3 separate regions of the Homo sapiens genome follow, and all the other regions are linked to region 3. The links come from fine-mapping of genetic effects on gene expression. A gene starts in region 3. Each other region holds a variant in brackets. All regions are shown on one strand. Distances are from middle to middle.

Region 1 (10,727 bases), 51 kb after region 3:
TGTTTTTGATTTCTAGTATTTCCATTTGCTTCTTTCTTAGTTTTCATCTTTCAGCCAAAATTATCTATCTGATCTTGCATGCTGTCTTCCTTTTCCATGATAGTCTTAAGTATATTAATCATAGTTATTTTGAATTCCTTGTGAGATAGTTACAACATCTGTGTCTTATCTGTTTCTGATGATTGCTTTATCTCTTCCAAGTGTGTTCTTTTCTTGCCTTTTTGTATGTCTCATAATTTTTTATTGAAAACTGCGCATCATGCATAGGACATAGATACTGTCTTGGAGATCAGCCTGCCTTTCATTCTGCTAGGCCATGTGGGATTTTGTGTTCCCCTCGTCTGGAGTTAGGCTGGTTGTGGGGTTTGTTGTTGCTGTGTTATCCTTTGTGCATCATGGGCTTCAAATGTTTCTGGTGGTACCTTGTGTCAAGGGCAAGTGCTGGTTTGGCAGAGGTTGTTTTCTCTGTGTCTGCATTCCCCTCTGAGTCTCGCCTTTGCATTGAGTCCCACAGAGAATCTGTTGCTTGCGGATCTCTCAGCTATAGTATGTGTTACTTTTTCTCCAGCTTGGTTAGCCTGCTGGTGAGGGAGAAAGGCTTCCCCTGATGTTCTGATTATGCCTTATTGCCAGCAGATGCTGTCTGTGGGTCTGAGGGGTGTGGCCTTTGCAGGTGCTCCTACCCAGCTCTTCTTCTAGCGGCAGATCTGATCCTAGCATGTGTTCCTCCTTTCCCAAGGATAGTGCATCCCCTGCCCCTTTCCCAGATGCAATGGATTTTATCCAGTTAAGATGTCCTTAAGTGACAGCTTCTGTGCTGTTTCTCAGCTGATTGGGGCTTTTGTTCCCTAGAGAAGATGGGCTGGGAGAAGGTCTGGCAGTGGCGGTGGCTCTCTCCCCTCAGCCAGCACCAGAAAGGAAGCTGTGTTACTTTGTTAGGGTTGCCATAGCAAAGGACCATAGACTGTGTGGCTTAAACAGCAGATGTTTATTTTCCCACATTCTGGAGACTACATGTCTGAAATCAAGGTGCTGGCAGGGTAGGTTTCTTCTGAGGCCTCTCTCCCTGGCTTATTGGACGGCTGTCTTCTCCTCCCTGTGCCCTCACATGATCTCTTCTCTGTGTGTGTCTGTGTCCTAATCTCCTCTTCTTATAAGGACACCAGACATATTGGATTAGGGCCCATCCTATTGACCACATTTTTTTTTTTTTTTTTTTGAGACATAGTCTTGCTCTGTCGCCCAGGCTAGAGTGCAGTGGTGTGAACTCGGCTCACTGCAAGCTCCACCTCCTGGGTTCACACCATTCTCCTGCCTCAGCCTCCCGAGTAGCTGGGACTACAGGCGCCCTCCACCACGCCAGGCTAATTTTTTTTGTATTTTTAGTAGAGACGGGGTTTCACCGTGTTAGCCAGGATGGTCTCTATCTCCTGACCTCATGATCCGCCTGCCTCAGCCTCCCAAAGTGCTGGGATTACAGGCGTGAGCCACCGCGCCCGGCCCCTATTGACCACATTTTAATCAAGGCGCCTACAGGCTGTTCTCCTCTGAGGCCTCTCCTTATCTTGCAGATGGTCACCTTCTTAACGTGCCCTCGCATGGTCTTTCTGCCGTGAACACGAGACCCTGGTGTGTCAAAATTTCCTCTTCTTATGAGGACCCCGGTGACATGGGATTAAGACCCACACTAACAGCCTCACTTTTACCTAATTACCTCTTTAAAGGCTCTGTCTCCAAGTACAGTCACATTCTGCAGTACTGAGGGTTAGGCCTTCGTGTGAATTTGGCTGGGGGACGCAATTCAGCCTGCAACAGAGACTTGCCCGGGATTCTCCCGAATCTCCCCTCAGAACAGCTGGTAGACTTGGGGAGTTAAAGCCAGCATCAGGGTGTCAGCCGCCATCCGTCTCGGCTCCCTTGACTTCAGACTCTCACGCTGGCCCACACTGTCTTCAGCACTTCTTTAATATGATCTATTTGTGTTATATTAGAGGATCTAGCCCCAGGTAAGCAAGTGGCTTGGGTCCAGCTTCTTCCTGCAGGCATCAGGTTTTCCATGGATTTTAGGTATTTGGTTGCTCTGTGACCTAGGTTCTCTGATGGACCCAAGAAGCCATGAATTTACAGTTTTTCAAGTTTTGTCCTCGCTGTGAGGATGGGATTTATGTTTTTCCCACTGCTATATCTCTGAGCTGTACTCAGAAGTCTGTTTCCTTCTGAGTAAATGTAGTTGTTACAGTTTTTCTAGGAATATGTCCATTTCACTCAAACTAAAATATAATGGCATATAATTATGCACACTATCTTCTTGTTTTTAATGGCCGTATCATTTGTGCTGGTCTTTCCTTTTCATTTCTGATCTTAATTATTGATTCGTTTTTACTCTGTCTTAACATTCTCATCAGAAGCATGTTGGTTCTTTTCAAAGAACCGATTTTTTTTTAAGTTGTCTCTATTGCAAATTAATTTCAATTTCACTGCTTCTACCCTTAGGTTTATATTTCCTTTATTTATTTTACTATTTTTGGTTTATTTTGCTGTTCTAATTTCTTGAGGTGGGTAATTAGCCTTCACATTTTATCTGTATGTTTTATTATGAACATTTAAGGAATGGATTTCTCATTAGTTCATGAGTTTTATATTTGGTATATTTGATATACTGTAATTCAGACTAGTGTGAGTATTCAATATGATTGTTTCTTTGGCCTATGAGTATGTTTAGAAGTTAATTTTTAAATTTTCAGACATACGGAGTTTTTCTATTTTTTTCCTTTATTTCGCTGGTCAGAAAACATACTCTGTACCTTTTCAAACTTTTGTAAATTGTTTTCTTTGATTATTAATTCATGACTTTTTAATATGTTTAATGCCTTCTTATCAATTTTAATCATTACGTTGTTGAAGCTTAAAGTGGCTTCTCGCTGGCCTGCTGGCAGCACCTTCCACCTGGCTCCTCTCTCCTCTGACGTGACCCCATCAGTCTTTCATAGTTTACTTGGTTTCCAGCCAAATACAATGTCCCAGACTCACCTGATACATTTCCAATCCTCAGCCCAGAAACAGCGATTTCTCCTAAGAACCCTGTTGCTTCTGTAGAATACAAGCTGTGCTTACTATCAAATTGCTGTTACTTCTAAGCATTTTCAGAGTGTAGGGCCAGGATATTGGCATGTTTTAAACGAGGAGAAAACTGTGGTTTCATTGATTTCTTAAAAAATACAAATTTAGAATTATAGAGGTTATATTTAACTTTTCTGATTTATATTTTTATTTTTTCTCTGACTTTGGACATCATAGTTGATAACAACATTCACAATTTTGTTATTCACTTAATTCTATAATATATTCATAATAGGTTTGAAATAACACTGATAATATTACTGAAAATAAGAAAAATCTAATGATCTTAAAGATTTCTGTGGTTTTTCTTTTATCTTTAAGGTATATCACACAGAGAATGTGTAGTGAAAATTCTATGTACTAAGGTTACATGGAATACTTTCTTTGTTTTATGTAATTGTTTTACCAACTTGGTGTAGAGTTAGATTCATTTGTTTTCAATTTTTAGGTGTGATTCTTTATTTTTTATGTTTAATTTTGTTTGTGTTTATGTCCTATCAATGGTCAGTTTTGGTAAATGCCCTGTGTGTTTGTAATGAATGTATTTTGCGGTACTGGGTGCAGTATTCTGTTTAAGTTCTATGTCAATTTTATTTATTGTGTTATTCTAGTTTTCTATTTCCAATTGATTTTTTTGGCTGGTTGTATTGGTCACTGAAAGAGATGTGTTAATATTTCTATCATAATTGCAGATTTGCATATTTCTACCAGTAGACCTTAGTATTTTACCTGTCCTTTAGCAAGTTTATCAAAGTTTGCTTGATGTATTTTGAGGCTATGTAAATGTGGACTTGTTTTATCTTCATGGACATGAAATTTTATCACTAGGGAGTCATCCTGTTTGTATGCAGTATTGCTTTTTGTCTTAAGGTCACTTTTGTCTGTCATTGATATTGCCATGCCAGACCTCTCTGATTAATATTTGAATGTGTATCATTTTCTATATCCTCATTTGGGTTTTAATCTTGCTGTAATTCTACATTTTTCTTTAGACATCTCTCTTATTAGAGATCAGAAATTAGTTGAATATTTTTATTTTAGTCTGACACAATTAAACTTTTATTTGGAGCTGTCAGTCATTCATATTTCATGTAATTCTTGTTAGACTGAAGTTGAACCTGCCATCTGATTATGTGCCTGCTTTTAAGTGTTTCTTTTCTTTTTCTTTACAATCTTGGCTTCTTTTTATGGATTCGACTATTTAAAAAAATCAATTTCTGTTTTTTCCTATGTCATTCTGGAGTTACAGAGTCTGATTTTATCTTTTAAAAGTCATCCTTGAAATTTTAATGTAAGTACTGAGTCCCCTGCAGTCTAAAGTTCTGCTCTCCGCCTGGATTGTACAAGTGCCTCAGGGCAAGCACTGACTCTGGCCACTCCATCAGATGCATCTTCTGGATTTTTCTTGTATTTGATTTCTATCTTTTTAAAACTCTAAAAATATCATGTATTTGTTTTATACAATCAATATTCCTTCAGTTTTAGCCCAATATTTATCTTTTTGCTTTTTATTATTTTTCATATCTTGGAGATTCTACTCAGGATCAGTTTTCTTCTGCTTGAAGTACATGCTTTAGTGATGTCTGTTTATGGCAGACTCTCTGTTTCCAGGCTTCAGTCTCTTCCCGGCTCTGAATTCTAATGTGGCAGTTTTCTTTCAGCACACAGTCTGCTGACTTCACTGCTGTGATGGGGAGGGCTTCTGTCAGGCTTTCTTTTCTCCTTTATTACTAAGAATTTTTTGTTTCTTTTTTTGTTTTCTGCAGTTGAACTATGTCTCTTTCTGAGTGTCTTTTTATTTATTATTCCAGTTTGTCGGGCTTCTAGAATGTGTGTGTTCCCAGGTAGTAGTTCTTCAAATGTTGCTTCTCCTGTGTTGTCTCACTCCTCTCATCCTGGAATTCCAGCTAAATTCATTAAACCTTCTCAAATGTGCTGGGTATCTCTTTAGTTTGTACATTTTT[G/A]TCTACTTATGCTGCTATTTGGATACTTTCTTCTGATTTATTTTCATATACACGAATTCTCTTTTCAGCTGTATCTATGGTGATACTGTATTTGATTTAACTTTGTAAAAATCCTCAATGAGTGGGTTCGTCCAAATAACATAGATCATGATTGTTGGAAATTGTGAGTCTTTGATCATATCTTTAAATATGTTAAAAAATTTTTTTATTTGGTTTATTCTCTTTAGGGACACAAGTTATGTGTAATGCAAACTTCTTCTGTCTTACTTTCACATCTCCTGCATCCATTTCCTTCTCATTCTTTCTACTCTCTGTTCATTTTAACTGTGCTCACTTTTCACTCCTTTTCTTTTCATGTCCCTCACAATGTTTATTTTCCTTTTAGCTGCTTCCAGTTTGGACTTAATATTTTCTATTTTATCTGCCTTAAAAAAAATCTTTGTTAGGTAATATTTTAGCTCCTTATATTTCCTTATCATGTCTTCCTTGAGTACTTTTAGTTCTCTTTTTATGCTCTCCATTTATAGAGGTGATTGTTTCATTGGGGTTTTTAACTTTATAACAATATTTTTGGGTCACAATTTTGACCTATGCTATAGAAAGTTTTTGGTGTTCCTCCTCTAATTTCTTTCCCTGTTGAAAAAGAAAAAAACTCTTTTTTATTAGAATTTTAAATGTAGATTCTATTGTTGTTTCTTTTTTATTATTACTCATCTTTGATGGAGATGAGTTCTTATTGGCTCAAGGACTCAAGAGAAGTTGCTGTGAGAGCCCGCATGCGACTGCGCTAACAATGTATCTTAGTGGCATAATAACAATGTATCTTAGTGGCACAATGCTGTAGGCAGGGATGAATTCTTATCTTTACCCATCTTCCTTTTTGCTTTCTCTCCTCCCAGGGAGCCAGTATAGATGCAGGACTGCTCTCAGATGCCTCACAAGCAGCAACTTCTTCCTCCTTATAGTTCTTATCTGTGATTCTTCCATAATTTTGTCCTTCTAAGCTTCTGATGCACTGAATTATGTAAAGTGCATTCCCTTCACCAGCTTGTGCACCCTATTCTGTAACTGATAATAAATGGTTGGTATTGCACTATAGAGTATGCTTCTTACTTAGGAGAAATTTGTGCTGTTAGTCTTTCCTAAAATCTTCGACAAAGAGCATTCTCTCTCTACGTTTTTTGAACCCCTGATAGACCTTCAATGCTTTTGCGCTTCTTCCTCCTCATTTATATTTTGAAGTTTCAGATGACTCTTAGCTTCACAGAGGATGTTGTTTGTGTTTCCATTTCTCAGTCCTTATTTTGATTTGGAAGATTTCCAGGAGGAGAATGTCAAGCCCACAGTACAATTTTAACACCAGAAGTCAGTCTTTCCTCTTGAATACAAATGGAAAATTAAGGATCTGTATTTATTTAATAAAATTTCACAAAGAGAAAATAATTAAATTACAAATAAAGAAGAAAATGGAAATCAGGGAACATGGAGTTAATTCAGGCAACAAAATAGAGTAGTAAAAAGGCTTATTAATATGCATAGAGATATGAATAAGATTATACCTGAACAAGAGTGGGCTGTTAAGTAAGAGGGACAATCAGGGAACCAAAAACAACTCTTTGAAATTAAAAATCTAATATTTGAAATTAAAAATTAAATATAGAAGTTGGAAGGTAAAGATGATCAAATTCCCTAATATTACTATTAGTATAAGCCCACAAAACAGAAAAGAGACAAGATAAACGTCTTATAGGAGTATTGTAGGAGACCCAACATCTTATTAATACTGGTTGCAAAAAGAGTGGACAAAGAGCATGGAGGAAAGGAAATTGCAAATAACATAAGAATTTCCTTTAACTGAAGTATCTATATGTCCAGATGAAAAGTGTACCTCAAATAGTAAGCACAGTAAGTGATGAAAAAGACCTAAATTGTGAAATTAGCATCCTACAGAGAGAAAAACCACAGGTTTACATGCCAAGCAAAAACAATTAGAATGGCATAGGATTATAAAATATTGGATAATAGGAAGCAATGGCATATGCCTTTAAAATTTGAGGCTAAATGAATTTTAACTTAGAATTTTATACCCAATTAATAATTTTAAATATTAATTGTGTTGATAGCCAGACATTTAAGGACTCAGAATATTTATTTTCCACTCATCTTTTCTATGGAAGTGTTTGAAGGATGCAGGAAATGAGAAATGAAACCAAAGTAGAAGAGAACATAGGATCTGGAAAACATCATAATCCAAATCCAGGGAGCAGCTAACAAAAGTCCTAGGTTGACAGATCTTTGGGCTTAGAGTGAGACAATCTTAGAGCAGCAGCATGCCAGAGGACTCCAGGAGTGCAGCTGAAAATGCATGCTGAGTGGCTGACATATCACCCAGAAGAAGCTCAGCTATGATCTTCCGTTTTAATATCCATGGCACAGCAACAGCCAGGCCTACTGTAGAGGAGGTGTCACCTTTTAAAAACAGAATCTACGTTATTCAGCAGCACTGAAAATGCTAGGCTACAAGTGGAATGCAGGTGTCAGGCTGAAAGCCTGTGGCATCTGAGTTTCTACATAAGGAATTGCGGTCAGGTCCTCGTGTATCCAAAACCCATTCTTTCAACACCAGCCTTGGGTGAGACAGGGTTGAAATTGCTGATGGTGCTTTCCGGGTATAGTAGGGAGGCACATGAAGCTGGAGACCATGGACGTTTAGGAGTGGAGGAACCAGAGCTGTGAATGACGGCCAAGGGCCGTGGGGGAAGAAATACTGGATCAAAACGGGAAAGCTCTGAATTGGGAAAAAGGAGAAACGCATGAGTTCCTTAGTTCCCATCTATTGCATTCAGGTTTTCTGATTTTTCTTTTTTGTTTTTTGCCAGACTTAGTATTTGCTTTGGTTTGTTTTTAGAGAGATAAGCCCCTTCTGATTATGGAATACTGGGTCGGCTGGTTCGACAGATGGGGAGATAAGCACCATGTTAAAGATGCAAAGGGTGAGTGTTTTGCAGTGTTTGACTCCAGGAAGAGATGGCCCCAGGTCCCATGAGAACTCATTCATACAGTTCTCTGCTAATTGATTCACTTGATCAGCCGTAGATATTCATGCAACTTTTCACATACAAGCACTCAGCCAGGCCCTGAGGATGCTCTGGTGGATAGAAATTACATGGTTCCCACCCCCAACAGAGTATAAGTTAGTGAGGTCCACAGATCATTACAGAGTAAAACAATCAATATGTAGTTCCATGTTTGGTGGATACTTTGAAGCAAACAAACAGGGTGCAGTGATAGAAAAGACAGAAGAAAGACCTGCGCAGGTAAGGTTAGGTGGTCACCGAAGCTTCTCTGAAAATGTGACATCTCTGAGGAAGGTGGAACATTAATCATCTCTAGCAGTGCATAGGCCCTCTCTATGGCATTGTCAACTAAGCACTAATAATAGTCAGGGGACAACATGCAGCGATAGCCAAGAGCATGGATCTTGGAGCCAAAGAGATCAGGTTTTAATCTCAGCTCTGCAGCGCTAGCCATGCGCTAGCTTCATGCAGGCTTCCTTCATTTTAATTCTCAGTGACCTCATCCAAACGTGAGGATTATCATAAAACCAACCTCATGAGGCTGGTGTGAGGATCAAGTGCTGCCACTTAGAGCAATGCCTGGCAGTCGTTTACTTAATAGGCATTTGTGTCTACAGAAGATATTTCGAAAGAGCTGTTATGAAAACAAGGCCACTTGTATCTGAAGTATAGAAAAACATTGAAAAATACTTGGGAACTGAGAAAAGCCTGTTTTAGGTTGAAAAATAGAAAAAAAGTCAAAAGAAAAATGCCACTATTACCACCAATAACACCAACAATAATACCATCACTACCACCAACAATAATGCCAGCAACAATACCACCACCATCATCACATCACCACCACAATCACCATCATCACCAACACCACCACCAGCACCACCACCATCACCATCATCACCATCACCACTACCACCACCACCATCACCATCACCACCACCACCATCACCATCACCACCATCACCACCACCACCACCACCACCACCACCAAATACCACCACCACCACCACCACCACCACTACCACCACCATCACCATCACCATCACCATCATCACCATCACCACTACCACCACCACCACCACCACCATCACCACCATCACCACCATCACCATCACCACCACCACCATCATCACCATCACCACCACCACCACCATCACCACCACCACCACCACCACCACCAAATACCACCACCACCATCACCACCAAATACCACCACCACCACCACCATGTCCACCACCACTACCACCACCATCACCATCACCATCACCACCACCACCACCATCACCATCACCATCATCACCATCACCTCCACCACCACCACCACTATCACCACCATCACCATCAACACCATCACCACCATCATCACCACCACCACCACCACCAACACCACCACCACCACTACCAAATAAAACTTTTCTGGTCTCTTGTATGGCAGGCACTGTGCCTTTTTTCCACATATATTACCTCATCAATGAATTTTCTCATCAGTCCCATGATATAGCTGGAATTAATACATTCATTTAACAGATCAGGAAGCAGTGGCGTTGAGAAAGAAAATAGGTTGCCCCAGGTCATACAAATAGTAACGAGCACAGCCAGAATTGACTCCCACTCTAAATGACTTTTAACCTTCTTCTTCCCACTGTGGCCAGTGGAGAGATGATTGCAGCTGTTTAAACACAGTACAAAATGGAAGTTTTGTGGCTAAAGATTAAGAGCAACCACTTGTGGACTATGGCGGTGTTTCCAAGTCAGTGTTCCCAGAAACATTTCACTGGAAGGTAGTAATGAGGGTGTACTAATTATATGTATGATTTCAAAAAACTTAAGGAAAATTAGATATTTAAGTGACATGAGGGTTCTTAGGTTATTATTTAATAGATGTAGTTTAGAGTCAAATTATGTCAATATTTTGGAAAAAAAGTGTTCAAAAATCTCTTGGGATTGACAAGATTCGGTGTCCTAGAGTAGTTCTGGCCAATTCTGCCTATTTTTTTGTTGGAATCTTTGTAGAGGTTGAATGATAAAACATTTGCAGTAGGTCTTTAACGTCATCAATAGGTTCTTGGAAACTAAACAAAATGATGTACAGCATATCCTCATATAATACTGTTTTCTTCAACATTGTTTCATTATAAAATTGAGAGAAAAATTGTTTTTTTTTTTATATCATTTTACTTAAAGTCTCCATTCCCAAGAATGTATATAGCCGTGAAGCGAGGAGTTACTGTAACTGATTGTGGAGTGGGGTTGGAAAGGATAAGAGTTTGCCAGAGGCTTCTGTCTCCTCTTAATTTCTAACATTCTCTGTGTTCTCATGTTCCCCTTTGCAGAGGTTGAACATGCTGTGTCTGAATTCATCAAATATGAGATCTCCTTCAATGTATATATGTTCCATGGTGGAACCAACTTTGGTTTCATGAACGGGGCCACATATTTCGGGAAGCACTCGGGCATTGTCACCAGCTATGGCAAGTGTCGCTGGTGTAGTAGCCTCTCCAGCATGGGCGGTGCTGGGGCTTTACAGAGGAGGCTCCGGAAGCCTGTTCTGGCACCACTGGGTTCT
Region 2 (10,727 bases), 97 kb after region 3:
GGCTGCTTGTGTGACAGGCAGCAGCAGGGCTGGCCCTCCTGGCATCTCATGCTTCAGGACTCTGCTGTGGAGCTGTGAGTCCTGGCAGGTCATTCACCTGCGTGTCTGCAGTATGGGAAAAATCCGACCTTCCCTGTCTGTTTCTTTTTTTTGAGACAGAGTCTTGCTCTGGCACTCAGGCTGGAGTGCAGTGGTGTGATCTTGGCTTACTGCAACCTCCGCCTCCCGGGTTCAAGCGATTCTCCTGCCTCAGCCTCCCGAGTAGCTAGGGTTACAGGTGTGTGCCACCACGCGCAGCTAATTTTTGTATTTTTAGTAAAGACAGGGTTTCACCATGTTGGCTAGGCTGGTCTGGAACTCCTGACCTTGTGATCTGCCCACCTCGGCCTCCCAAAGTGCTGGGATTACAGGCATGAGCCACCGCGCCCGGCCTTCCCTATCTCTTTCTTAGGAATGTTACCAAGCATATTTTGAAAAGTCCAAGTATTTTGATAAAGTATAAGAGAAACAAATTCTTGTTATGGTTTTGTCTTCCTATCTCGGCCCACGTGTGTCATCTTCCCAGTGCTAGTCTTGGCTGAGTTTGGTGTTCTGTGGTTGGAGTGGAAATCTGGACAGGAATCAGCTGGGACTTCATTCATTCCTCATCCTCAACATTGTGGCCTTTAAGATTTTCTTGTTAACTGGTGTAACCTTTCTCAGCCTCCCAGTGTACCAGGTGGTTAGACCCAGACTGCCTCAGGGAAGAGGCTGATCCTTGTCCCCAAGCCGTCTCCCCTCCCCTGGTCCCTGGGGAGCCCTGGGCTTCTTTTCCTCCTGGTTTCCAGCATGACCCGCCCTTCCCTCGGGGGCATAGCTTCTGTCTCCACTACCCAGGGCCACTTCTCAGGCACTGATCCATCCAGCCTGGTAGGCTCACCCTAGTCACGAACACAGCCAGGGCAGCCTCTCCCATCCCTGTGGATTAGAAAGCTGTGTGCCACCGTCAGCGATTTCCTCGGCTCAGCCGGGGCCGGGCACAGGAGGACGAAGGGTTTAACAGTCTTAACTTAGAAGCAGTGGGGAGCTGTGGCACTCAGACTCCCCCTTCTCACCCCGCCCATGTGGCACCTGGCCATGCATGAGAGGGGCATGTGGGCACACCTGCGGAGGGGGCGTCCGGGCGTGAGTGAGAAGGCTAACCTGTCAGGTGGGGTTAGAATGTGGGGGTGTCGGTCTGGAGGAAACTGCTCTCTCCTCACCCCTTGTTTGACCCACAGAAATGGGATAATTTCCTGACCCTGTTTAGGACTTCCAGACCAGGGCAAGAGGAGCCTCAGAGCCTTTTGTTAGAAAATATGTGTCTTCTCAGAACCTGAAGTGAGAAGGAAGAGCCCTGACTCCAGCTTTGGAACCAATCCACGCTGCTGTGTTCCTCTGGGGAGTTTGGGATCATAGCAACAGGGTGGAGGGAGAATTCAACTCTTGCTCACCTGCTGCTCTGGGCTGTGCGCCACTGATGCCAAGGCGTTAGCCACGTTGGCAAGGATGGGGACTGCCTCCTGCTCAGCCCCTCGCAGTCTCTGTCAGGCTTGTTTTTTGGGGTGACGCTAGAAGGTTGTGTCTCCTCCTTCCACAGCCTCAGTGATTCCTAACCCTTTTGACTTCACTTTTTGAAATGGGATCACAGAGCAAGTTGTTGAAAACTAGGCCTGGAGTCCTGTGAAAAGCTTTTCTCACTGCTGGCAGCCAGGCCCTGTAGCTGTGGAGCTGGAAATGAACTTCCACCAGGCTGTGTCCTTGGGGAGGGAAGCTGCAGGAGTGCGGGTGGGTGCTCGCCCCAGAATCGGTTTGCATTGTCTCCCCACTTCTGGGCTCAGTGGGGTGGAGGAGGGCACAGGTCATTCTGGAGCACTGGGGGGCCTCTCCCTTCTCACGCATCAACAGCCTGCTCACAGCAAACCCACTGTGACACTAACATCCTTCCTTTCCCCCGTTTACACTTCAAGCTGGCTACTCCAAGACCCTGGCATGAGGCTGAGGACAACTTACAAGGGCTTCACCGAAGCAGTGGACCTTTATTTTGACCACCTGATGTCCAGGGTGGTGCCACTCCAGGTACAAGCAAATGGGGTCTTCTTTGATCTTGGTCTGTCTTCCTCTAGGTCGTGGATCATCCTTGGTTAGTTCTCAGACCAAGGGTCCTCCAGTGTTTTGAACACACGAGCAGGCTCTTCCTCACCGTCCGAGACTCGTAACTGAGGGGCTTGCAAGAGTTGTCTTTGGAAAGATCTGTGCATTTCAGTGTTGTCTCACTTGGGTGCGTTACTGAAAGGACAGACAGATGTAAGGGCTCACATTGCCACATACAGCACTGGAGAGACAGGGATGCTGTGATAGCCGGGAACACGCATCCACTGGCATCTCCATGGTTCCACAGAGACAGGGATGAGGTGATAGCCGGGAACACCCATCTATCTACCAGTGTCCCAGTAGCACTGCGGCTCAGTTTTGCACAGGGTGGAGCACATGTGGATTAACCTTTGCCTATAAGACTGCAGGACTTTTTATAAATTATAAAATTCCTTTCGCTGACTTTACGAGATACTTCCCTCTGCTACCAAAAAGGTGCTGCATGGTACACACTTACTATTCAAAACATGCGTTAAAGTACGTTTTGGGGGAGGAAGTACCTTAATATTTTATATAATAATTGGAAGCTTTGGAAAGCAGGAATGGGAAAAATCAACCCAGTTGCTGTGTAAAACCAGAAAGAACGGCATTGAGAAATTAGTACATCAATAAAAAATTAGTTCAAGTCAGTGGTATGGAATACTCACCACACACATAAATCAAAGGGAACTGCCAGATGAAACACAGGATGCTCAGTTATATTTGAGTTTCAGATAAGCAAGGAATAATTTTTTAGTGTAAATATATTCCAAATATTGCATGGGTCATACTTACACTAAAAAATTATTTGTTGTGAATTCAAATTTAACTTTATGTCTGGTATTTTTGTTTACTAAATCCGGCAGCCTTAACCATGACAGAAGCAAGGAACTAGGAAGTCATTAGCCTAGATCTTGCTGGGAAGCTGGGGATCAGCAGGTTGTAGGAGTCGGGTGGGCAGCAGGATGGCCGTCCTGGGAGCAGGCTCAGAGGCACTTGCAGACGTGCAGCGGGTCACCAATGCATCTTTTTGAAATAAACGATAACATAATTATTATTATTTAACATATTTAAATAATCACATAGTTATTTAATTTTTGTGACTATGGGATAGTATACATAACATAAACTTTGCCATTTTAACCATTTTGAAATGTACAGCTCAGCGGCATTGAGTCCACCCACACTGTTGTGTGCTCATCTCCACAGCCTTAGTTCAGGCTGCCACAACCAAACACCTAGACTGAGTGGCTTACAGACAAAGAAATTCATTTCTCCCAGTTTTGGAGAGTGGGAAGTCCAAGAACAAAGCACTGGCAGATTCGGTGTCTGGAAGGGCCCCCTTCCAGGGCATATACGGCCATCTTCTTGATGCAACCTTACATGGCAGAGAGCGTCAGAGAGCTCCCTGAGGTCCCTCTTATAAGAGCACTAGCCCTGTTGGCAAGGACTCTATGCTCATAACTAATCACCACCCAAAAGTCCCACCTCTGAATACCGTCACAGTGGGGGTTAGGATTTCAACATGTAAATTTTGGGAGAACACAGTCTATTGCAACCACTGTCTATCTCCAGTCCTTTTCTGTCTTCCCCAATGTAAACTCTGTGCCGTTAAACCCTCCATTCTTCCCTCTCTCAGCTCCTGACAGCCATTCTACTCTCTGTCTCCATGCATTTGATCATTTTAGCTACCAAATATAAGTGAAATCACATAGTATTGTGACTGGATTATTTCACTTAACAGCGCCCTCAAGGTTCATCTGTGTCATAGCCTGTGTCAGAATTTCCTTCCTTTTTAAGACTGAATTATGTTCCATTGCATGTATATAACACGTTTGTTTATCCTTCATCCATTGACGAACGTTTGAGTTGCTTCTGCCTTTTGGCCACTGTAAATAAAGCTGCTGTGAGCATGGGTGTACAAATACCTTTCTGAGCCCCTGCTTTCGCTTCTTTTGGGTATATACCTAGAAGTGAAATTGCTGGATCAACTTGTCATTCTACATTCAGTTTTTTTTAGGAATTGCCATACCGTTTTCCACAGAAGTTGCACCAAATTACATTCCCACCAGCAATACACAAGCTTTGCAATTTCCCCACATCCTTGCCAACACTTGTTATTTCCTGTTTATCTGGGGAGAGCCATCAGTGGGTGTGAAGTGGTATCTCATGGTGGTTTTGATTTGCATTTCCCTGGTGATGTTGAGCATCTTTCATGTGCTGATTGGTCTTTTGCATATCTTGGAAGAAATGTTTATTCAAGTCTTCTGCTCATTTTTGAATCTAGTTGTTTGTTTTTATGTTGTTGATTATAGGAATTCTTTTTACTTTCTGGAGATCAATTCCTTAACAGGACCTGCCAGGACTGGGTCCTTCGCTTCAAGGCAGCAGGTTCCCTTTTGGCTCAGGGTATGTCTAGAAGTGTCTGGAAGCTAGGGCCTGGAACGAGGGCCTCTTGACTCTGCCGGCGCCCTTTCCTACTGTGGTTGAGCTGGATCCAAGATGCAAGACAAAGTCCTCTTTACTCTTTGCTCTCCTCTCCTTAAGCAGAAGGAAGGAGCCACTTTCGTTGCTGTGAGCTGCGCTACCTGGGCTTGGGGGAGGGATGTGCAAGAACTCCCTTAGCCATGCCAGCTGGTGGCTCCTTAGGCCATGCGCTGTGCTAGTACACTGGCTGTAAGCTCATCCTAGCTCCAGGAGTTGCATAGGAATTGCGGTCTTTGTGTCCTAGACTGCCTTTCATGTTTACCTAGGACTCCAGAGCACTTCAGCCCATGGTGGTGAGGCTTCCCAAGAAACTCAAGTTCCAATCACTAGGGTGGGCAGTTCCTCTCTGGCTAGGGCTGGTCCAAATGCTCCGTCTACGTGGATGCTGGCTGAGCTCAGCATGGCTTTATCCTGTGCTGTGACAAGGCAGCACTGAGTTCAATGTAAAGTTCCCCAGTCACTGTGCTCTCCCTTCCCCAAATGCACAGATCCTCTCTCCTCACCACTTGGCTGCCGCTGGGAGATGGGAGAGGGTGGCATCGGTGGTGTAAGGCTGTCTCTCTTGCCTGCCTTAATGCGTCTTTTGGTGATATGAAGTTAAAACCAGGTACTGTGACGGGTCACTTGAGTTTCGGTTTTTGTCATGGTGCTTTTCTGCGTGCAGATCACTGTTAAAATTTCGTGTTCCAGCAGGACGGATGAACGGTGCAGCCTTCTATTCCTCCATCTTGCTCCACTGTCTTTTATTTTCTTTTAGTATTTTGTTTGTAATGTACAATCAGTGTACAAATATTTCACCTCCTTGATTAAATGTATTCCCAAGTATTTTGTTGTTTTTGATGGTGTCGTAAATGGAATTGTCCCCTGATGGTGGATAAAAACAATGCATTTTTGCACATTGATTTTTTTTATCCTGCAAGCTTACTGAATTATTAGCTAGATAGTTTTTTTTAGGGGTGTGGGGATGTGCACTGTTTTCTGCATTTAAGATCATGTTGTCTGTGAACAGAGATAACTTCTTCCTTTCCAACTTGGTTGCCTTTATTTTTTTCTTGACTAATTGCTCTGGCAGGACTTCCAGTACCGTGTTGAATAGAAGTGCTGAAAGCACGAATGCTTGGTTTGTTCCTGATCGTAGAGGAAAAGTTTTCAGTCTTTCACCAGTGAATATGATGTTGACTGTGGGCTTTCTGTATGGGGCCTTTACTATGTTGAGGTAGTTTCCTTCTGTTCCTAGTTGACTGAGTGTTTTTTATCATGAAAGAATGTTGAATTTTATCACTTTTTTCTGCATCAATTGGGATCATCATGTGGTTTTTCCTCTTAATTTTGTTAATGCGGTATATTACATTGATTGATTCTTTTTCTTTCTTTTTTTTTTTTTTTTTGAGATGGTGGTTCCCTCTTGTTGCTCAGGCTGGAGAGCAATGGCGCTATCTCAGCTCACTGCAACCTCCTCCTCCCAGGTTCAAGTGATTCTCCTGCCTCAGCCTCCTGAATAGCTGGGGTTACAAGCACCTGCCACCATGCCCAGCTAATTTTGTATTTTCAGTAGAGATGGGGTTTTACCCTGTTGATCAGGCTGGTCTCAAACTTCTGACCTCAGGTGATCCACCTGCCTCAGCCTCCCAAAGTGCTGGGATTATAGGCATGAGCCACCATGCCTGGCCTACATTGATTGCTTTTCACATGGCAAATCATCCTCGCATTACAGGAATGAATCCCATTTGATCATGGTTTATAATTCTTTTAATATGCTGCTGAATTAAGTTGGCTAACATGTTGTTGAGGGTTTTGGCATCAGTATTCATCAGGACTGTTAGTCCGTGTTTTCTTTTCTCATAGTGTCTTTTGTTTGTAATAAAAGAAAAAAGTGTCAACTTTTTTTGACACTTCTATATCCAGCAAAACTCAAAAATGAGGGAAAAATTAAGAAATTCCCAAAGAAAAGTGAAAAGAGTTTATTACTGTATTCTAC[C/G]TTATAGAATAAGGTAGGAAGTGTTCCTTCCCTTTCAATTTTTGGGAAGGGTTTGAGGAAGACTGGCGTTAATTTTTCTTTAAATATTTGGTAGAATTTACCAGTGAAGCCATCTGGTCCTGGACTTTTCTTTGTTGGGAGGTTTTTAGTTACTGATTCAGTGTCCTTACTAGTTATAGGTCTGTTCAGATTTTATATTTCTTCATGATTTAGTTTTGGCATATTATATATTTCTAGGAATTTGTGTGTTTCATCTAGGTTATTTAATATTTAATTTGTTGGCGTACAATTTGTTCATATTCCTCTTCTGTAATCGTTTTTATTTCTGTAAAATCAGCAGTAATAGCCTCATGTTGTTTCTGATTTTAGTTGAGTCATATCTTTTTTCTTAGTTTAGCTGCAGTTTGTCAGTTTTGTTGATCTTTTCAAATAACCAACTCTTGGTTTCATTAATTTTTCTTTATTGTTTTTCTATTCTCTCATTGTCTATCTCTGCTCTAATCTTTATTATTTCCTTACTTCTGCTACCTTTTAGTTTGTTTCCCTTTTTCTGGTTTCTTAAGGTATAAAGTTAAGTTGTTGGTTTGAGACCTTTTGTCTTTTAAATGTATTTATAGCTATAAAATTTCCCTCTTTGCACTGCTTTCACTGTAATTCATAATTTTATTTCCATTTTCATTTTTCTCAATATGTCTTCTTTTTTTTTTTTTTTGAGATGGAGTCTCGCTCTTGTCGCCCAGGCAGGAGTGCAGTGGCATGATCTCAGCTCACTACAACGTCCGCCTCCCAGGTTCAAGTGATTCTCATTACTCACCCTCCCAAGTAGCTGGGATTACAGGTGCCCGTGACCACGCCCGGCTGATATTTGTATTTTTAGTAGAGACGGGGTTTCCCCTTGTTGGCCGGGCTGGTCTTGAACTCCCTATCTCAGGTGATCCGCCCGCCTTGGCCTCCCAAAGTGCTGGGATTACAGGCGTGAGCCACTGCGCCTGGCCTCAATATATTTTCTAATGTCTCTTGTGATTTCCTCTTTGGACTATTGGTGAAGATTTTATTTCCACATACTTGAATTTTTCAGGACTTTTTTGGTTATTGATTTCTAGTTTCATTCCATTGTGATTGGGAAAAATAAAACTTTGTAAGATTTCAATTTTTTAAATTTATTAAAGCTTGAGGCTGGGTGTGGTGGCTCATGCCTGTAATCCTAGCACTTTGGGAGGCCGAGGCAAGTGGAACACTTGAGGTCGGGAGTTAGAGACCAGCTTGGCCAACATGTTGAAACCCATTCTCTACTAAAAAATACAAAAATTAGCCAGGTGTGGTGACGGGCACCTGTAATCCCAGCTACTTGGGAGGCTGAGGCACAAGAATCACTTGAACCTGGGAGATGGAGGTTGCAGTGAGCCAAGATTGTGCCACTGCACTCCAGCCTGGGTGACAGAGCAAGACTCTGTTTTTTTTTAAAAAAGAAAAATTTATTAAGGCTTGTTTTTTTGGCTTACTATATGGTTTATCCTGGAGAGTGTTTTATGTGCCCATGAGAAAAATGTGTATTGTGCTACTTTTGGGTGGAATGTTGTGTATATATATGTTTGGTCCAACTGGTCCATAATATTGTCTAGGTCCTCTATTTGGTTACTAATTTTCTGTCTGGTTACTCTATCCATTATTGATATTCAGATATTGAGTCTCCTACTATTATTGTCTATTTTTCCCTTTAATTTTGCCACTGTTTGGCTCATATACTTTGGAATTCTGGCATTTGGTGCATATATGTTTATAATTGTTATATCCTTTTGGTGAATTGACCCTTTTATCATTATATATATTTTATCATGTCTTTGTCTCTTGTAACAGTTTTTGATATAAAGTCTATTTTGTTTGATATTAGCAAAGCCACCCCTCCTCTTTTGATTACTGTTTGCATAAAATATCTTTTTCCAGCCTTTCACTTCCAACCAATAAATATCCTTAGATCTGAAGTGAGTGTCTTGTAGATAGTATATAGTTGGATATCGGTTTGTTAAAAATCCATTCTGCCAATGTATGTCTTTTGATTGGGGAGTTTAATGTGTTTACATTCAAAGTAATTACTGATAGAGAATCACTTGCTTTTGCCATTTTGTTGCTTTCTGTATGTCTTACAGCTTTTTGTCCCTCATTTCCTTTATGACTGCTTTACTTTGTATCTAGTTGATTTTTTTATAGTGACACTTTTTTATAACGATTCCCTTTACCTTGGGATAAGGTAAAGGATATATAATATCCTAAAGTTGTGACATTCTGTTTTAAATTGATACCAACCTAACTTCAACTGCACACAAAAACTCCTTTACAGTTCTGCCCTTCCACTTTATTTTATTGATGTCACAAATTATGTCTTCATATTGGGTGTACCCATTAACTTAAATTTATAATTATTTTATGTCTTTTAAAATCTTGTAGAAAATAAAAAGCCACATTGTAAAGAAAAATTATAATAATATTTTTATATTTTTTATGTGTCTATCTTTGCTGGAGAACTTTATATTTTCATATAGCTTCAAATTACTCTCTAGCATTTTTTCATTTCAACTTTAGGTGTTTTTTTTCTAGGGAAGGTCTAGTGGTAATGAACTCTCTTAGCTTTACTTTGGGAATTTCTTAATTTTTCCCTCATTTTTGAGTTTTGCTGGATATAGAAGTGTCAAAAAAAAAGTTGACACTTTTTCCTTTCAGCACTTTGACTATATCATCTCATTGCCTTCTGGCCTGAAAATTTTCTGGCTGAGATATCCTTTATAGTCTTATTGAGGATCCCTTGCCTGTGACCAAAACTTTTTCTGGCATTCAAGAATCTCTCTTTGTCTTCAATGGTTTGATTATAGAGTGTCCCTGAGTGGTTCTCTGGAATTTTTTGAGCTCCTTAGATTTATATAATCTTGTCTTTCCTCAAATTGGAGAAGTTTTCAGCTATTATTTTGTAAAAATAATCTCCCTGCCCTTTTATCTCTCTTTTTCTTCTAAGAAACCCATAATTCATATATTATTCTGCTTGAAGATGTTGTGTAAGCCCCTTAGGCTCTGTTCACTTTTCTTTATTCTTTTATCTCCTCAGACCTGATCATTTCTGATAACCTGTGTTTAAGTTTGCTTTTCTTTCTTCTACCTGTTTGAATCTGCCGTTGAACTCCTCTAGTGAATTTTTCAATTTATATATGGTATATTTCAGCCCCAGAAGTTCCTTTGGTTCTTTTAAAAATAATCTCTGTTTCTTTGTTGATATTCTCTTTTTCTTCATATATCATTTGCCTGGTTTCCTTTAGCTCCTTGAGCATATTTACGACAGCTGTTATAGATCTTGCTCTACTGAGTCTGGTGTGTGTGTTTCTTCAGATACTGCTTTTGGAGATTTATTTTGTTCCTTTGATGAGTCATACTTCCCTGTTTCTTTTTATGTTTGTGTTTTTTTGGTTGAACATTGGGCTTTTGAAAAAACAAACACCTATTTCAGTTTTTGCATGTTTTCAGGGGAACCCTCACTAATTAGTGGGCCCCTAAGCCCGGAGATCAGCCCAACATGAAGACTTAAGAGCTGATATTTTCTGGGCATGTGTTCTGTCTGTATCTGTGTGTGTGCTTCCCTCCCTACCTCCCCTCCCTGGTCGCTTTCAAGGGTCTTTAATTCCCAGAGTCTCACCCCAGCTTCTTCTTGTGGCCTTAGATGCTTTTCATTTTCTTTTGCTGTAATTCTTTTCCCCCAGGCATCCAAGGCTTTATAGTCCTCTGGCAGCTTTCATATGCTGCCATCTTTAGCTTCCAGCCTGAAGTCCAAACTATGTTGACGATTCCTGTTTGAGCTCCATGTCAGACAAGACAGAAACCAGTACGTTGGGCAGAACAAGTTAGAACATCGTGAACAAGTTAGAACATTGTAAACAAGTTAGAACATTATCAACAAGTTCCATTTTGCTTCTTCCCCATGAGGGAGCGGGGAGTTGGGACGCATCCTCCTGACCACACCATGCTACATTGGGGTGGGGCAAGAACTTGTGAAAACATCATACAATTTTGTACCATTTTGCATATGACTTTTTGTTTTGATTTGGTGGTCACTTGTTTGGTTAGACAC
Region 3 (10,727 bases):
TACACAAAAACCACTGAGGTACACAAGCCCAGGTAAGCATACCAAGCAAGCCCCCTCACACCTTTTGTCTGAAAAAAGCTTGACTTCTTTGCAGCAATGTCTCGCCCATTCCAGCAGCAGTATCTCAGTTAACTTGGTTCCTTTTCCTCCAGGCTCAAAACAAAATCAAACTCTTCTACAAAAAAAAAAGGGAAAAAGGAAGGATTAGTTTTTAATGTCCCCTCTTGAACAGGAAAGTTGTGCCAGGCACAGGTACATCTTACATGGTACTAAGGCGAGCAGTCATTCGTTCAAAACTATTTACCAGGTGCCAAGCACTATAGAGTACTGGGTAATAGTAACAGGTAACTCTGGCCACATTCCCTCCCTCATGGGTGTTACAGGTGAGGATGCTGACTGAGAAAGGTGAAGTACCATGCCCAAGTTTAATCAGCTAGTAAGTGGGAATTCATGAGGTCATTCTGGTATATGGACAATAAAGGAGAGGGCCCACTCTTACCCTGGGTCAGGGGCTGGATTGATAATCTCTGGCGAGTGAAGAGAACCATATTTTTTAAGGGGCCACCAGTAGCTTTGTGAGCTTGATGATAGGATTTGAGCTCAGCCAGGGGAATGAAACGTTTCATCATCCGAACAAACTGTACATCCACCTATGTGACAACAGTGTACATGACAGAAAGACGTGTCTAGGCTGACTGTGCCCACTGTATTTTTAACCGCCCACAGGAAGCTCCTATCTCAGTATCACCTCATCTGAGTAAGTGCTGGGCCGTGTACCTTGACCTACAGTCACCCCAACCGTCTTCTTCCCCTGGTTCATCCTTCCCCTGTCATGAAATAGAAAGCATAGTCTTTACCATGGACCACTTAGGGTTGTCCTCTTTGCTAGATGGGTCATAATGGGGATTGTTTTTCTCAAACTGTGTGTGGTCTGGGTAAGCCTCTTTCACGATCTGAAACCAAAACAAAAGCTTTGAATCATCTGCCTGCAGTCAGCTCCACAGCCAATCTTTTAATCCATATCCAACTTTCATTTCTTCCCTGCACATTCTTAACCCATCTGCCTTGCTGTACAGCCAATGGGGGCTCAGATATTTGGAAACAATATATAGTCTAATATATAGACTAGGAAATCAACTCTGTTTTTACAAAAGTCTTAAAAACATGCTCTAAAAACAAATGGCAAAGGTTATTACTGGTACCACTGTTTTTTTCCCCTCTGCACAGTTAATAATTTTATCCTGATAAGCTTGGAGGAGCTATCATCAGGCCTGTTTTCGAGTGAGATCAAGACTTAGAGGTGGAGTGAAGTCTGTGCTAGTCGGACCTGAATGAAGGCCTGCTTTGAGTTATCAGATAGGAAGGGGCCAGGGCAGTTTTTCCCTATTCCTGTAAAAGGGGGATGGGGTGGGGGGGAGTGTACTTTTTTGTTGCCTAATTAAGGTATATCCCTTTATATCTACTTAAGTTAGTCTCCCTGGAGGAAAAGGGATTCACACCAAAACCTGCCCAACTAACCTTCATGAGTCCTGCGATGCCTGGCTCTTTGCAGTTGCTATGGTAGAAGAAGGCTTCTTCTCCCAGCTTCATGGCTCTAAGGAAGTTCCGAGCCTGTCCCGGGAGAAGAAAGAGTAACTATCCTCCCACCAGCTGGAAAGTACTAGCTTTTAGCAGAAATCAAGTCTGCTTTTAATAGATGGGTGATTCTTGTCTGCAACTCCTCAATTCATTAGAAAGTCCTTCCCCTTTGCCAGGACACCCAGACTTTTACCAGGACATTGGCCAGAACACAGGCCAATTGAAAATTTCATGCAGAGTACTTAAGGCATTTTTTAATACATTATCAGGTTTGCTTCTGAGAAAAAGCAACCTTGGCCAAGAGGTTCTGCTACTGAGTACGTCATGAGGAGGAGGCAGGCATTCATCCCACCTGGGTCTCAGGCGACCTCCTCCTTACCCTCTTACCTGGTAGTTACGAACACCATCCCAGCATGTTGTCTGTTTGGGCTGTGCTTTGAGATCCTCAATGCTGAACTAGGCAAGAGGAAATAAATTCAATCATTAAACAATCCTTGGCCAGTTAGTAAGCACATATGGAAGCAGACAGTTCCTTCCCCTAAAATGAGAGGGGCCACTGGCTATAGAGGAAGTATGTAGTTCACCGGGAAGTGGCTCCACAGAGACACTTTTGCTGGGTGAATGTAAGTAAGCCTTGTGTTACCTTGTTATCCTTGCTAATTATGAGGATTAGCTGAATGAATAATCTAGGTGATAAAGTAATCTGCTAGTTACTTGCATTTTACTTTATATTTATAATAGTTCTGCTTATATTTTTCCCAGGCTATATTAAATTCCCTGAAATATACATCAACTGTTGGCAGGGAGACACCTAGGAGCATGGCAGGTGTTCAGAGAAAGGTAACCTAAGATTGAGGTTGGCAGACTATAGCCTTCAGGACAAATCTAACCCCATGCTGGATTTTGTGAATAAAGTTGAACTTGAACACAGCCACAGCTGTTTACTTATTATCTGTGGCCACTCTCTTGCTACAAGGGCAGGGTTGCAACAGAGACTGTAACACGCACAAGCCTACAAAATTTACTATCTGGCCCTTTGTGGCAAAGGTTAGCCAACCCCTGCCCTAGATACACAGGTTCACAAACCAGCTGATGATAATAAACCCTGCCGATTTTATTCATTTTTACCTTTTTCCTTCCCTTCAAAGATAAGAAGCTGGGGATGGAACCCTATGGTGTCCCATATTCACTTCTCATTTAAAAAACACCATGAAGGGACTGGAGACAGGTCAAGGGTCTCACCTTCACATCTACACCTTTCTCTAGGCGGCTCTCTGGCTCTGACTTCATCAGCCAGTGGCTGCTTAGATTCTTCAAACAGTTTTTAGTGGCTGAAGTCTTCTGAGGGTTGGAGTCCTCCACTTTAGCTAATGCCTCACCTGAGTTCTCAGTTTTGGTGCGTTTTCCTGATAGTCCCTTGTCTGCAATAGGAGAAGCAAAAAGAAAAGATCATGCTTGTTAAAGGCAATGTTTCATAATGGAAAAAGCTTAGCTTTGGAGTCAGACCTGGATTCAAATCATGGATCCATTACCAGCTGTAGGAACTTAATCTTACTGTTAAGAAGCTTTCCTTATCTATAAAAATTAGACAAGAATACCTACCTTACAGGGTATCTTCTGGATTATCTATTCAATAGGGTAAGAACACCTTACAGGGTTGTTCAGGATTAAAGGTCCGGACAGTAGTCAATACATGTTTTCCTTTCCTCACTCTCTCTTCTATGCCTTTGCATAGGAAAGAGGAAACTGAGCACCTACTTGCAACTATTTTGAAGCTTAAATGAGGTAATACAAAGGGCCTAGACAATGCCTGGCATTACAATAAGTGCATAATAAAAGCATTATTATTCTCATCTCATACGTCTTTCCTTCTTGCTCACTGTGGCTCCTGGCCCATCTCCTTTCTGCTCCTTGAAGGTGCCAATAAAAGTTGAAAGAAACAGTTCATTCAGGACATTGTAGAAAAATGGTGATGATTCGATTTCATCCCAAGACAATCAGAATGTGCCTGGAACACAGTAGGCATTCAGTAGCTAAGTTGTTAAATTACTATATGACAGGGCCCAAGGTCTATGTGTTACCCTAACCCTAACTCGGTTAATCTACATAACCTGTGAGATGTTCTACTCTTCATCTGGGAAGCATGCTCCAGATCACACATCCAGTAATGGTGGAATCAAGATATGAGGTCAGCACCTGTCACTGAGGTCTATCTGAAGCTACTTAATGACTATACTGCCTCTGAATTTAGTCAAAGTCCCTACATCAATTGTCATTAAATACCATTTATGGCTGTCTAATGCTCTGAACCCAGCATACCTTCCTAACCTAGTTTCCTAATGGCCCCTTAGGAGTTAACAGGCCCACTGCAAACACCACATATTGATAAATAACTGCAATGTGCTGTAGTATATCTGGAACCCCTGTCATTCCCAAAAGAGGTACTTTCTGTACCTTCCAATGTTCCTCCTCCTCCATCCACTTAGAATGCCATCCATCTTTGTGATTATAAAAACGACATCACGTTTTCTTAGTACTAAACTTTGCCCGTGGAAAGTCTCCCATTCTTCAAGGCTGGGCTCAAATTCCACATCCTTCTCGAGGCCTTCCCCGTGATTCCTCCCTCCATAAACTTAACAATCCATTTTCCTGAACCCCATCACATCTGTTTGCAGTTCACCCGCAAGCAGGCGCTTTATATTCTTTAGCACGCCACCTGGTATCTCAAAGAGTCTTTGTGCACAACAACCATTGCCTGAATAAACAAGAAAAAGGAACTGTAGGTAGGAGCTTGGTGAGACAAGTAAAGAAGATGGAGAGTGATTAAGGATAATGGAGTAAAAATATCACAAAGGGTTCTCAAAAAGCAGGGAGTGAAAAATGAGTACTAAACAGGCTCTTCGAGAAAAGTTTTTTCTTGGGCTGCCTTTGTGCAGCCTAGGGGCAGCTCACCTGAACCAGAAGTCCCAGCCAGCCTCTTCCGGGGTCTCGACATGGTCACGCTGCAGGGGACTTTAGTGCGGACGATTCTGGAATCAACGGAGATACAAGAAAGAATGCTAATGTCCTCCAAAACCCGCGCAGAGCGAGATGGAGGCAACGAGAGGCAGCCTAGAACGTCTCCAACTTTTGCGAAACACAGACGCCTACGTTTGAGCCCTCAAATCCTTCCCTCCGTTATCTGCGCCATTTCCATCTCGCATAACCTGCCCCTAAACTCTTCTCGGTTCTGTCCTTGGTCCTTCTCATCCAGGAACCCCTATCTCAGTATGTAGTTCACTGGGAAGTGGCTCCACAGAGACACTTTTGTTGGGTGAATATAAGTAAGCCTTGTGTTACCTTGTTATCCTTGCTAATTAGGATCAACTGAATGGATAATCTAGATGATGAAGTAATTTGCTGGCTACAGACCCAACACTCTGCAGACTCGACTGCGGTCCGCCTCCGCTGCGCCGCAGGCTGTGCAGCGCGACCCCCGCGGCGCTTGGTGGGCGGTGCATCTCTGCGGCGCCGAGGCCCCGAGGACTTCTGGGAATTGTAGTCCTGTCCCCTTGGGAGCCCGCCTGGCACCTGGGTTGTTAGGGCTCGTGGGAGGACTACAACCCCCAGGGTGCAGTGGGACAGGCGTTGCCGGGTCGCAGGTCCCGCCAGTGCGAGCGCAACGGAGGTCGAAGGCGTTCAGACTCTTAGCTGAACGCGGAGCTGCGGCGGCTATGCTGTGGAGCGGCTGCCGGCGTTTCGGGGCGCGCCTCGGCTGCCTGCCCGGCGGTCTCCGGGTCCTCGTCCAGACCGGCCACCGGAGCTTGACCTCCTGCATCGACCGTAAGGATCTCCTGGCGGGCAGTAGGACAGGTGTCCAGAACCCCGGCGGACATATGTCCGCGAGGGGCTGCAGTCTCCCCGTTCCATCCAGTCACCCCGGCGTCAGCTCCCCTTCCGGCCAGTCACCCCCCCGGCCTGGCTCCCTACTCCGGCCGGTCACCCCCGGCCTGGCTGCCCCCTCCGGTCGGTCACCACCATCCGGGTCCCCATCTGGCCCGTCACCCCTGCCCGGGTCCTCCTCCGGCCGGTCACCCCCGCCCCGGTCCTCCTCCGGCCGGTCACCCCCGCCCCGGTCCTCCTCCGGCCGGTCACCCCCCGCAGGTTCCCCTCCGGCCGGTCATCCCCCCGCAGGTTCCCCTCCGGCCCGGGTCCTCCTGCGGCCGGTCACCCTCGGATGCTTAGAGAAGTGAAGAAACTTGGGGCTTGGTTGTTGTTGGGTTGGTTGGTTTTTAATCATAACAGTAGGTCATAAAAGCAGTGAGAATATAAGAAGCTGGCTGGGTGCTGATGGTGACAACTGCACAAGAACTCCAGGTCATACAAGATTTGCTCACACACAAAGATTTGGTATCTTAACACCTCTGGCTATAAGACACTTTTAGTGTTGAAACTCATGCAGGAAAAATAATTATTATTGCCAGTGGGAAACTCTACCAGAGCTGACAAACTTGAGTGTCTTTAGGCTCTGAACAGTAATTTGAATGTAGCGAGGAGTGGTGGAGACCCGGCCAGTTTGTGACTTCTCTGCCAAGAATGTTTATAAACACTTTTTTCTTCTGAAATATTTTTAAATTTATTTTAAATAAATGGCAGTTTTCTTTACAACAGAATAAGTCCCTTAGATATCAGATCTATAAAGTACAGTAAGGCATAGAATACTGTTTTCTTCTGAATGTCCTAAAACTCATTCAAGAGGTGCTGCCCTGGCCTAGCGCTTAGAATTTGATAACCCAGATTACCCTGGTTGATACCGAAGCAGATAAGGAATTATTTAGAGGTGGGTTTTGTTATTGTTTGCATCTTGCTTACACTTGAGTGGCTCTGCAGTCAAAGGCTTTTCCCATTTCATTTGGAGTGTTTTTCTATTTAGCTTTACCTTTTTAGTGTATATGTATTGGCATCTTGAGCTCTGCTAGTAACTATGTATTGGCATCTTGAACTCTGCTAGTAACTGGCAAAGTTCATGAGTGGTGGTATTTGTTTTGTTTTTATACTGTATTTCCTTCTGGGAACTTGTGTTTACTTATGCATATGATTTGCATAAAACTATTTCCTTCCATTAGAATGCAACTCAGATTTATTTCTTAAGCCTGTGGTTCCTTGAACTATTTGTTTTAGGAAGTAGCCATTTACAGAAGAAGAAGATTTGTTAACATTTAATGAGCTCTTGCTAGGATTGAAATAGTCATCCTTTGTGTGAATGGATCTTATTTATTTATTTTTTTGAGATGGAGTCTCTTTCTGTTGCCCAGGCTGGAGTACAGTGGTGCGATCTCAACTCACCGCAACCTCTGCCCCACGGGTTCAAGCAATTCTTGTGCCTCAGCCTCCCAAGTAGCTGGGATTACAGCACATGCCACCATGCCCAGCTAATTTTTATATTTTTAGTAGAGACGGGGTTTCACCATGTTGGACAAGCTGGACTTGAACTCCTGACCTCAAGTGATCCACCTGCCTTGGCCTCCCCAAAGTCTGGGATTACAGGCATGAGCCACTGCGCCTGGCTGGATCATATTTATTTTTGTAACCCCAGCACTGCTACCTAGTAAACACCCAATAAACATTCTTTTGGAAATGATCTTTGAGCCATGGTCTACAGTAACAGCAACCCTTGTACAAAATTGTGTGAATAAATGGCCTGACCCCAGTCAGAGAACCATGAATTGTTTATCCCTAACTCTGTTCCTGAGGGTAATACCCAACATAGGTTTCTGCTCTGAGTTTCTCAAGGCAGCCTAATCGTTAATCCTCAGAACTCTTCATTTCTGACTTTCCCATTTTAATGAGAGTACTGATCACAGAAAGCAGTGCCCTCTCCAGGCTCGCATAGCCAGCCATTACTGATGCCCAGATTTGCCCCAAGGAACAGACTCTGGCACCTGCCCTTGTGTTCTTCTGTGAGGACTGCATCGCTTGTAGGCACTGAAGTAAATTATTGCCAAGTGTGGCGCCATAGTCTTCCCATAGTGCTCTTTTTTCTTTTTTTCTTCTTTTGAAACAGAGTCTTGCTCTGTCACCCAGGCTAGAGTGCAATGGCACAATCTCAGCTCACTGCAACCTCTGCCTCCTGGGTTCAAGCGATTCTCCTGTCTCACCCTCCCAAAGTAGCTGGGATTACAGGCATGCGCCACCACACCCAGCTAATTTTTGTATTTTTAGTAGAGGCGGGGTTTTTCCATGTTGGTCAGGCTGGTCTTGAGCTCCTGACCTCAGGTGATCTGCCCGCCTCGGCCTCCTGAAGTGCTGGGATTATAGGCGTGAACCATCACGCCCAGCCCATAGTGCTCTTCAGTGTCAGTTATAATGACCAAAGTTCTAGCACTGTGGCCTCAACCTCTAGGTCTACAACTGCATTTTACTAAGTGCTAGGATAAGAGATGTCTGGAAGTCCCCTATCCTGTTCTAGGTTGATCTGGATGTGTGCTAGAACTGTCCTTTCTCCATATGACAAGTGGAATAACGACAGAAGCTGCCATTCTCTAGCTGTTAAAGGCTATACCGTGTATGGGAAATACTACAGTAGATCCACTTTCACAACTTCGTGGTGCTTCTTGTTGGCAACACCTTGTTGGCAACACTGACCCTGTCCTAGAACAGTATATGCAATCCTGCCCACAGCTTCCATGGGACTTAATGAAGAGCAGAAAGAATTTCAAAAAGTGGCCTTTGACTTTGCTGCCCGAGAGATGGCTCCAAATATGGCAGAGTGGGACCAGAAGGTAGGCGTTTTTCTTGTGCTTAGACGTTCTAACAACAGATGTCTCAGGCAGACCTTTATCTTTGTCTCCTGATAATGTAATTGTTAAATGTCTCCTCCACTTACCAACTCTTACTGCAAGTGAGAATACCGGTAGTGGATGATTTTTCCTAGAAGGCATCCTGATCATCTTGTACATAACTTTTTTTTTGTTAGTTGAATAAAGATTTGGATATAAAACTAAGGCAGTTCTATAGATAATAAAAAGAAACTTCTTAATGCCAGAACAAGTTTTTACAGGACCCATGTTAACTGATAACCACTGTAAGATGACAAACAGGCATATTAAGAGAATTCATACGCTGTCGCATGTGCAAGCCTCCTAATCCCTCACTGTGCCCTCTAAAAGGAAGGCCGTCTCTGAATCAGCTGCTGATCACCCTGCTCTCTTTTGTACATAGGAGCTGTTCCCAGTGGATGTGATGCGGAAGGCAGCCCAGCTAGGCTTCGGAGGGGTCTACATACAAACAGATGTGGGCGGGTCTGGGCTGTCACGTCTTGATACCTCTGTCATTTTTGAAGCCTTGGCTACAGGCTGCACCAGCACCACAGCCTATATAAGCATCCACAAGTGAGTGCCCAAGCTTGGAAGGCACAATGAAGTGCTCACTCGGGCTGACTGTGAGAGTTCAGATTCGTAGGAAAAAGATTGATCTTTTGAAGCTGAGTGTCCTCAAGGAACTGGACTTAAAAGTACACTCTAGGGGCCGGGCGCAGTGGCTCGTGCCTGTAATCCCAGCACTTTGGGAGGCCAAGGCAGGCAGATCACGAGGTCAGGAGTTTGAGACCAGCCTGGCCAACGTGGTGAAACCCCGTCCCTGCTAAAAATACAAAAAATTAGCCGGGTGTGGTGGCTGGCGCCTGTAGTCCCAGCTACTCGGGAGGCTGAGGCAGGAGGATGGTGTGAACCCGGGAGGCGGAGCTTGCAGTGAGCCGAGATGGACCACTGCACTCCAGCCTGGGCGACAGAGCGAGACTCCATCTCAAAAAAAATAAATAAATAAAATAAGTACACGCTAGGTCTGTTGCTGCCTGTTGGACTTGATTCTGTCATCCTGTGTATTGCTTAGGGAATCAGGTCAGCCAGCTTTCTCAGAAATCTTATTTTGAGCTGGTACCAGGAGACTTCTCCAATAGAGTGATCAGGGTCCTCTCACCCTTTTATTTATTTATTTATTTTTAAGACAGAGTCTCGCTCTGTTGCCCAGGCTAGGGTGCAGTGGCATGACCTCGGCTCACTGCAACCTCCGTCTCCCCGGTTCAAGTGATTCTCCTGCCTCAGCCTCCTGAGTAGCTGGGATTACAGGCACGTGCCACCACACCTGGCTAATTTTTTTTCATATTTAGTAGAGATGGGGTTTCACCATGTTAGTCAGGCTGGTCTCAAACTCCTGACCTTGTGTTCTGCCTGCCTCGGCCTCCCATAGTGCTGGGATTACAGATGTGAGCCACCGCACCCGGCCCCTCTCACCCTTTTCCTCAATCCAAAGATGGAACTGCCAGTGATTTGAGGAAGTAATAGAAACTACTAATAGAAAGCACATATAACTCTGATTTTTAGAGGCTCGTGTAACCTAACTAGAAGTAGTACAAACGTGCTGGTGAGAAGTACCTCAGCCTGGTTATCTCTGGGTAGTCCTTATTCCAGGAATATGTTTTAATCCACCGTTTGCCTTTAAAGAGTCTTCCCAATTGTGACTCTCCCCTTCCCACTCTTCTGCTTTACTCCACTGCCCTGCCCTTTGTTCTCTTTCCCCTTCTCCCCCATTTTTTTTTCTTTTCCATCTTTATTTCTGTCATTGTCTTTTCTTCTTGGTGTACCTATCAGCATGTGTGCCTGGATGATTGATAGCTTCGGAAATGAGGAACAGAGGCACAAATTTTGCCCACCGCTCTGTACCATGGAGAAGTTTGCTTCCTACTGCCTCACTGAACCAGGTGAATTTGCCACACTGCACTGAGATATAGCAGGGAGAGATGCTTCCTGCTCAGATGGCATTACCGAGCACTCCTTCCAGCCTCTTGACATGTCGAGCCACTGTTTATCTAGCTGTTTGGTTGAGGAGTAATAGAGTCCTGTGACCTGATGTCACAAGGACCAAGAAGCCTATCTGGTGTGTTGGGAGGTAGGCAGTGGCCTGACTGGTATGAGCAGTTTCCACCAAGTACAGAGAGTTCCTTTGGCCACTTGGGTTTTGCAGTGACACACTCTGAGCAGGGTCTGTTTAGAGAAGATTTCCTAGAAGATAGAATTGTGCTGGGCTCCCTCGACCTCACTGACTTTCTCACCTTCTCTCTGCTGCCTTTTGATCCCTCCTCAGGAAGTGGGAGTGATGCTGCCTCTCTTCTG

Direction of the effects. Alleles are on the strand shown, and positions count from the first base shown. SD is a standard deviation of normalised expression in the study named.
With allele G in place of A in region 1, the expression in subcutaneous fat of the gene that starts at base 5,043 in region 3 is higher (large effect, 1.3 SD a copy in FUSION).
For the expression in sigmoid colon of the gene that starts at base 5,043 in region 3, G is the low allele of the variant in region 2 and C is the other (small effect, 0.17 SD a copy in GTEx).

The links.
Region 1: its variant is fine-mapped to the expression of THYN1 in subcutaneous fat (FUSION, PIP 0.95).
Region 2: its variant is fine-mapped to the expression of THYN1 in sigmoid colon (GTEx, PIP 0.91).

What each region holds. Positions count from the first base shown.
Region 1 is chr11:134,299,132-134,309,858 of GRCh38, forward strand. It overlaps GLB1L3 (galactosidase beta 1 like 3), which reads left to right. Exons shown (of 20, transcript NM_001080407.3): 10 at 7,993-8,077; 11 at 10,495-10,632. Among named protein-coding and RNA genes, the nearest start is that of GLB1L2, 27 kb to the right of the region's middle. The variant G/A (reference allele first, on the strand shown) is at 5,085.
Region 2 is chr11:134,345,337-134,356,063 of GRCh38, forward strand. It overlaps GLB1L2 (galactosidase beta 1 like 2), which reads left to right. Exons shown (of 19, transcript NM_001370461.1): 5 at 1,989-2,097. Among named protein-coding and RNA genes, the nearest start is that of GLB1L2, 19 kb to the left of the region's middle. RefSeq lists a silencer at 4,292-4,351. The variant C/G (reference allele first, on the strand shown) is at 6,617.
Region 3 is chr11:134,248,310-134,259,036 of GRCh38, forward strand. It overlaps THYN1 (thymocyte nuclear protein 1), which reads right to left and starts at 5,043. Exons shown (of 7, transcript NM_014174.3): 1 at 4,531-5,043; 2 at 2,821-2,999; 3 at 1,966-2,034; 4 at 1,519-1,611; 5 at 858-953; 6 at 500-650; 7 at 1-175. The coding sequence starts at 4,573. The coding sequence ends at 129. It overlaps ACAD8 (acyl-CoA dehydrogenase family member 8), which reads left to right and starts at 5,259. Exons shown (of 11, transcript NM_014384.3): 1 at 5,259-5,400; 2 at 8,239-8,339; 3 at 8,779-8,948; 4 at 10,206-10,315; 5 at 10,699-10,727. The coding sequence starts at 5,292. RefSeq lists an enhancer at 4,804-5,173.